Homo sapiens: one gene and its partner. The protein of the gene in region 1 purifies or fractionates together with the protein of each later gene. This does not show direct contact. Each region holds a gene or a part of one and is shown on either strand. Other genes may lie near its edges. The genes, in order: MX2 and FXN.

Region 1 (3,822 bases):
AAATTGAGGCCGGGCATGTTGACTCATGCCTGCAATCCCAGCACTTTGGGGGGCCAAGGCGGGCGGATCACCTGAGGTCAGGAGTTCGAGACCACCCTGGCCAACACGGTGAAACCCCATCTCTACTAAAAATACAAAAAATTAGCCGGGTGTGGTGGCACAGGCCTGTAATCCCAGCTACTTGGGAGGCTGAGGCACGAGAATCGCTTGAACCTGAGACGAAGTTTGCAGTGAGCCGAGATTGCACCACTGCACTCCAGCCTGGTGACAGAGTGAGATTCTGTCTCAAAAAAGCAAAAAAAAAAAAAAAAAAAAAGAAAGAAAGAAAAGAAAAAAAAAAGAAAATTGAATGACTACACAATACTTCCAAAGGATGAGAATAGAGCAAATTTGATTATAATATAACAGTGGCTTAGAGAATATCAAGTTTCAAAAAGAACAGTGGGTCGATATTTTCAGGCCCTCACTAAGCTGGTTCCCCACCTGTCCATTGCTATGGATGTTATCTACTCCCTTGGCTTCAGCCGAGCTCCTGTGCCCTCTTAAGACAGAGACTGCTCCTGTCGAGGTCACCCACACCCTCTGCACTGAGGAGCACATGGTCACGTCTCTGTCCTTGCCTCTCCTTTCTCAGCAGCAGTCACCCCAGTTGCCCACTCCCTCCTTCCTGAACCTCCCTCCTTCCTGAAACTCCCTCCTTCCTCCACCATTCTCTCTCTCTCGGGTCGCTTCCGTCACTGGCCAGCTGGAAGTCACATTCTTAGACTCCTTGTCTCCATGCCTCTTCAATTCTCAGGCCTCTAAGTATGGAAAACTTGGTTCTGGGCTCTCCTTCTATCAACGCATCATCACATTAAGTGATCTTATCCGGCTGTGGTTTGTAATCCCATCTACATGCCAGTGACTCCCAAATCTGTATCTCTAACCCTGACCTTGCTTAACTGGACAACTCCGTTTGGCTGTCTGGCCAATGTCTCCAGTTAAACGTGACCAGAACAGAACTCTTGGTTTCGTACTCCATCCTGATTCACCTCCTCTCCAAGGCTTCCCCACCTCATTCACAGAACCCATCCGCCCACCCAGTTCTAAAGCCAAATCAAAGAGTCCCACTTGAGTCCTCCCTCCCCTTGCCTCCAAGTCTAATGTATCTGAAGTCCTGGTGACTCTGCCTCCAAAACGGGTGCCAAATCCATCCACTGCTCTCCATCCCCACTGTCACTGCCTAGACCAAGCCACCATGGTCTCCTGCCTGGTCTGCTCAAACATTCTCCTGCTGTTCGAGCACTCACCTTGCCCATGGCAGTGCCCTCTCCACTGGCCTCCAGACATGTCAATCGGGTCATGCCCCTCTCTGTTTACATTCTCTCCTGCTGCCATCTCACATGCATATAAACCCCGGACTCCTTTATCTAGAAAGCAGAGCCCCAGGTGACCTGGCCCTGCCTGCCTCTCTGATCTCAGTTCCACCGCTCTCTGCCTTGCTCATGACCCTCCAATACGGCTCTGCCATCCCTGCTCCCTCTCAACCAGGGTCTGGAGTGCTCCTTCTCCCTCCCCACTAGGCTGACTCCTCCCTTCCTTCAGATGTCAGTCCAAATGTTGCCTTCTGAGAGCGGACCTCCCTGTCCACCCAACTTGAGACTACATCACGCACCGCTGCCCACGGTCATTTGCCAGCACGTCACTTTATGTTAATTCTCTGCATAGCCCTTATCAATATCCATTCTTCTTTATTTCTCGTATATTACTAGATTAATTTATCTGGAAAGAGAGGTTCAAGAATAGTAGACCAGATAGCCAGACTTACCCACAAATTAAAACGAAGGACAAAATAGCGGAAGATAAGGCCAGGCACGGTGGCTCATGCCTGTAATCCCAACACTTTGGGAGGCTGAGGTGGGTGGATCATGAGGTCGGGAGTTTGAGACCAGCCTGGCCAACATGGTGAAACCTCATCTCTACTAAAAATACAAAAATTAGCTGGGCGTGGTAGCACATGCCTGTAGTCCCCGCTACTCAGGAGGCTGAGGCAGGAGAATCGCTTGAACCGGGGAGGCGGAGGTTGAAGTGAGCCACTGCACTCCAGCCTGGGCAACAGAGCGAGACTCCATCTCAAAAAAGAAAGAGAGAGAGAGAGAGAGAGAAAGGAAGGAAGGAAGCAAGGAAAGAAGGAAGGAAGGAAGGAAGGAAAGAAGGAAGAAAGAAAAGTGCTTTTCAACATACACAAACAAGAAATGCAGTGGCAATTTGACACTCAAGCAACATAAACAAAAAAGAGCACTTGGAATTCAAAGTTTTCAATCCAGTGCAAGCAGGAAGGAGTGGGGACAGAGGAGGGGGAGAGGAAAGTGGGAAGGAGGAGATCAGAGGAGGTGCCCACAAGAGGGAGCGGAGTGAGTCTGTTCAGGAGACACTAGAGAGGGACTCCCCTCAGTAGGGAACAAGGCATTTCTTGGAAACATGGTGCATGGAGCCAGTCCATTCTAACCATGCATGCTGCCTTAGTGCTGGGCACCCAGTAGGCATCCACGAAATATTTGTTAAGTCAACTATCCAGGACACTGAATGAACTGAGTGAGAGGGTGAGATAGCGAGCCAATAGAAATGCAAAGAAGAGGGGCAATGAGGGAATGAGGATGGAATGAGGCACTGGAGGATCAAGACTGCAGAAGACCTTGTTGGCCAAAAAAGGAGCCCATAGTCCAGTAGGAGTCAAACCTGTTTGAGGGGATCACTGACCTTTCCATTTCCCTTCTTTAACCATCTCACAGGTATCCTGACCAAACCAGATCTAATGGACAGGGGCACTGAGAAAAGCGTCATGAATGTGGTGCGGAACCTCACGTACCCCCTCAAGAAGGGCTACATGATTGTGAAGTGCCGGGGCCAGCAGGAGATCACAAACAGGCTGAGCTTGGCAGAGGCAACCAAGAAAGAAATTACATTCTTTCAAACACATCCATATTTCAGGTGAGACTCTTCAGGAAAGCTCTGGAATTAGACTCCATGAAAGCCAGCCCATCTGCAAGAGTTGGCCCAGATCATGACCAAAGTGTATGCACAAATTACACAAGGTAGTATAACCTAGCCTCACCTGATTTTTGTGCTAGATTTCTTGGCTTATTTAGACAAATTATTGTTTCTTAGATTCCAATGATGGTGCTGATTAAAAACTGGAATGTGTCATGACATAAAGCGTAGAACTCTTTGGTTTCCCAAAATGTTTTCACTTCCTTTCTGATTTGAGTCCTTATATTAAGAGATACATAAGGCAGGTGAAGTTTCTCCCATTTCCATGGATAAGAATAATGAGGTCAAACAAATAGTGAATGGGAACAGGACTGAACACAGAGCACCTAACTTCCAGAAACCCGTGTGTACCACCGTAAACGGCACACAGGAAAACCTGCTCGATGGAACTCTCCGTGTTTTTAGAGCCTCCAGTGCCCACAGTCATTTGCCAGAATATCACTTGTTTTTATTAAATAGAAACTTAATAATAACTGGCTTTATTAAATAGAAATTATCCTATAGAGACTCTGTAGTTTGTAGGACGCTGGGATTGTTCCCATTGAATGGAGCACTTTTCCCCTTCATTCTGGAACTTGTTGTTCCTGAATGATCCAGGAGCACAGAGGTCACTCCTGCTTGAAGGAGAGCTAATGGGAAAACTGAATTTGGGCCGAGTAGGTCTACGGCTTGCTGACTATGTGATCTTACAATATGGGCCACCTTCTCGGAATTTTGCCTTTCCCATCTTCTCCAGGGGATCCTACTACTGCCTCACAAGATTGTGGTTAGGATTACGTAACACGACATACA
Region 2 (3,822 bases), on another chromosome or scaffold:
ACTCCTCTGAAGGAAGGGATCGTGGTACTCACAACAAACCTCACAACCGTGAGCATAAAACAAGAGAACAGAAATACCCCAAGTACAGAGCCTGAGGGTATTCAGGCTCTGAACAAAAGAATGGAGAACTAGGTGAGAGGCAAACTTCCGCCTCTGCCTAAGGGAGGCTCCATTCTGTTCTGCTTGAGGGAGGCAAAGCTTGGAGGTCAAGGTCATAGGATGAGTGTTCTTCCTTTTTTTTTTTTTTTCTGAGACGGAGTCTTGCTCTGTTGCCCAGGCTGGAATGCAGTGGCACAATCTAGGCTTATTGCAACCTCCGCCTCCCGGGTTCAAGTGATTCTCCTGCCTCAGCCTCCTGAGTAGCTGGGATTACAGGCGTGCACCTCCATGCCCAGCTAATTTTTGTGTTTTTAGGAGAGACAGGTTTCAGCATGTTGGTCAGGCTGGTCTCACTCCTGACCTCATGATCCACCCACCTTGGCCTCCCAAAGTGCTGGGATTACAGGCGTAAGCCACCGCACCTGGCCATGATGAGTGTTCTTTCTAAAGCCACCTGGCAGCCATGTCTCCCTCTAACTCCAGGTCACCCGTGAGCCCTTGGACCACAAGTCATGGTAGGCTTGCCTAGCTTGAGGCTTCAGATGTGTGTGCTCACTCACACAGTGCCTGCTCATGGGATGCATTTGAGGAAATATTAGATAGTTTCTGGGCCTGAAGTCTCAGGCCCAGTGGTCAGGAACCACTTGACCCAATCATTGCCTACCCCCTGGTAAGGACTGGCCTGGATGGCCAGCAGGGAGCCCAGCTTTCCTTCCCAGGTGTCCCCTTGTCACCCCCGGCCCTGTCAAACCACAGCACTTGAAGAGTGAATCAGGACCCATACCTCGCAGGGGAGGATGAACTGGCACCACCACTTTTGGCATCAAATGAGTTGATTATTGGCTGCCCCTTTGCCCAGCAATTCCATTCTGAGAAATTCACCTGAAAGGAACTTCTGTCCATGCACAAGAACAGTCACAGCAGCACCATCGTAACAACAGAACACTGCAATCAACCAAATGTCACCTAAAGGAACCTGGATAGTGTGATTTACAGTGTGATATATTTACCCAACCAGATACTATCCAGCAGTGAGAACAAATAAAGGACAACTGCATGCATCAATGCAGATGACGCACAAAAACAGTGTTGAACAAAAGGGGCAAGCCATAGCAGAACAGATACAGCAGAATACCTTGTATATAAGCAATACATGGATTGGGGGAGATACAGAGGAGGTCAAACTCTAAGAAAAGGAGGGTACGATGAACAGAATTCGGGCTGGCAGATTCCTCCAGGGAGGACAGGGCAGTGATGGGGTGAAGACAAGGGCCTCCAGAGGAACAAACAAATTCTATCTCTTAACCTGGTGTCAGGGATACAAGTATTTGTTATTTGTCTTAGTCTGGGATGTTATAACAAAATACCAGCCACTGGGTGGCTTATAAACAATAGAAATGTGTTTCTTAGAGTCCTGGAGGGTGGGAAATCCAAGATCAATGCACCAACAGCTTTGGTGTCTGGTGAGGGCCAGTTTCCTGGTTCATAGATGATGCCTTGTCACTGGGCTCCGTTGGGCTATTTTAGAAGGGCACTAATCCCAATCATATGGGCTCCACCCTCATACCTCATCACCTCCCAAGGGCCCCACCTCCTAATATCACTTTGGTGATTAGGTTTTAACATATGAATGGTGGGGTGACACAAACATGCAGACCATAGCATTTATTATTAGTTTATAAGCAGTATAAATATTTATTTATTTATTTATTTTTTTCTTTGAGATGCAGTCTCGCTCTGTCACCCAGGCTGGAGTGCAGTGGCACGATCTCGGATCACTGCAAGCTCTGCCTCCCGGGTTCACGCCATTCTCCTGCCTCAGCGTCCCGAGTAGTGGGGACTACAGGCACCCGTCACCACGCCCGGCTAATTTTTTGTATTTTTAGTAGAGATGGGGTTTCATCGTATTAGCCAGGATGGTCTCCATCTCCTGAACTCGTGATCCACCTGCCTCGGCCTCCCAAAGTGCTGGGATTACAGGCGTGAGCCACCGCGCCCGGCAGCGTATAAATATTTACATATCCTTTTCTATGTGTAAACTTGTGTAAATTGTCTGCAAGACAATAAAAATGATTTGAAAGTGAGTGAGGGTATAACCTGCTTGTTAGGCCTAAAGCCAAAAGGTCATAGGATCACAGGTGGTGGTCTTGTCCCTCTAGGAAAATGGACAGATGTCTAAAAGCTGCCCAAGGCATGCAGAAGTGGATGCCACAGGAGCTTATTGAGTCATTTAAGAGACAGCATGCTATGGTTTGAATGTTTGTCACCTCCGAAACTCATGTTGAAACTTAATTCCCGATGTGGCAGTATTGAGAGGTGGGGCCTTTAAGCGGTGACTGGGTCATGAAGGTTCTTCCCTCAATAATGGATTAATCCATTCATAGATTAATGGGTTATCATGGGAGTGAAACTAGTTAGGCTTTATAAGAAAAGAAAAAGACACCTGAGGTAGCACACTCAGCCCCTTACCATATGACGCCCGGTGCCGCCTCAATACTCTGCAAAGTCCCCACCAGCAAGAAGGGACTTGACTTTGGACTTCTCAGCCTCCAGAGCAGTAAGAAGAAAATTTTTTACCATATAAATTGCCCAGTTTCAGGTATTCTGTCACAAGCAACAGAAAATGGACTAAGAAACATCCAGTTATCTCCTTCTCGAAGCTGTCTCCGGTATTTAAGAGGAAACGTTAAAGACGCAGCCCCGTCACATCCCTCCATCAAATGGACTAAGACACATCCAGTTATCTCCTCCTCGAAGCTGTCTCCAGTATTTAAGAGGAAACGTTAAAGATGCAGCCCCTGTCACATCCCTCCATCAAAAAACATAGGCTGCCTCGTGGAATCAGAGTCCTTCCCAGCCTCCAGGTAGGTAAGGCTGGGGCTGGGGGCTGTGGGGCTGTGCTTTTAAAAGCCGTTTCTGTGGATTCTTGGTTCTGCTGAGTAGCCAGATCTGAGAACCAATGATCAGGTACTAAATATGCTGTCCCATGTGGTGGTCACCAGCCCCCGTGGCTACTGAGCACTAGAAATGTGGCTAATGGGACTGAGGACCTGGATTTTCAACTTCATTTAATTTTAATTATTTGAGGTGATAATAAAGTAATAAAGTTATTAGGAGCCTTTTTTTTTTTTTTGAGACGGAGTCTCGCTCTGTCGCCCAGGTTGGAAGGCAGTGGTGCGATCTCGGCTCACTGCAACCTCCACCACCTCCCGGGTTCAAGCAATTATCCTGCCTCAGCCTCCTGAGTAGCTGGGATTACAGGTGAGTGCCACCACATCCAGCTAATTTTTGTATTTTTAGTAGAGACGGGGTTTCACCATGTTGGCCAGGCTGGTCTCAAACTCCTGACCTCAGGTGATCCGCCCATCTCAGCCTCCCAAAGTGCTGGGATTACAGGTGTGAGCAACCACACCCAGCCTAGGAGACATTTAAGTGTGTTTGGAACAACTTGACTATGTGAACCTTCATTTTTAATTGTGAATTTTATAAAAGTAAATACAGATAGAGCATTTACTTAGAAATTGTGAATTGAGATATGCTGGAAGTATATGAGTACGAAAAGAGTATGCAAGATATCTTATTACTGATTTTTTTTGTATGTCACAGAATCCCCCAAAATCTTGGCTCACTGCAACCTCTGCCTCCTGGGCTCAAGTGATTCTCATGCCTCAGCCTCCCGAGTAGCTGGGACTACAGGCACCCACCACCATGCTGAGCTAGTTT

Evidence for each region.
Region 2: the proteins of MX2 (region 1) and FXN fractionate together in Homo sapiens (co-fractionation; one large-scale study listed by BioGRID). This does not show direct contact.

The regions. Positions count from the first base shown.
Region 1 is NC_000021.9:41,392,816-41,396,637, forward strand, and holds part of MX2 (interferon-induced GTP-binding protein Mx2), read left to right. Parts: intron 1-2,771; coding exon 2,772-2,970; intron 2,971-3,822.
Region 2 is NC_000009.12:69,038,666-69,042,487, reverse strand, and holds part of FXN (frataxin, mitochondrial isoform 1 preproprotein), read right to left. Parts: intron 1-3,822.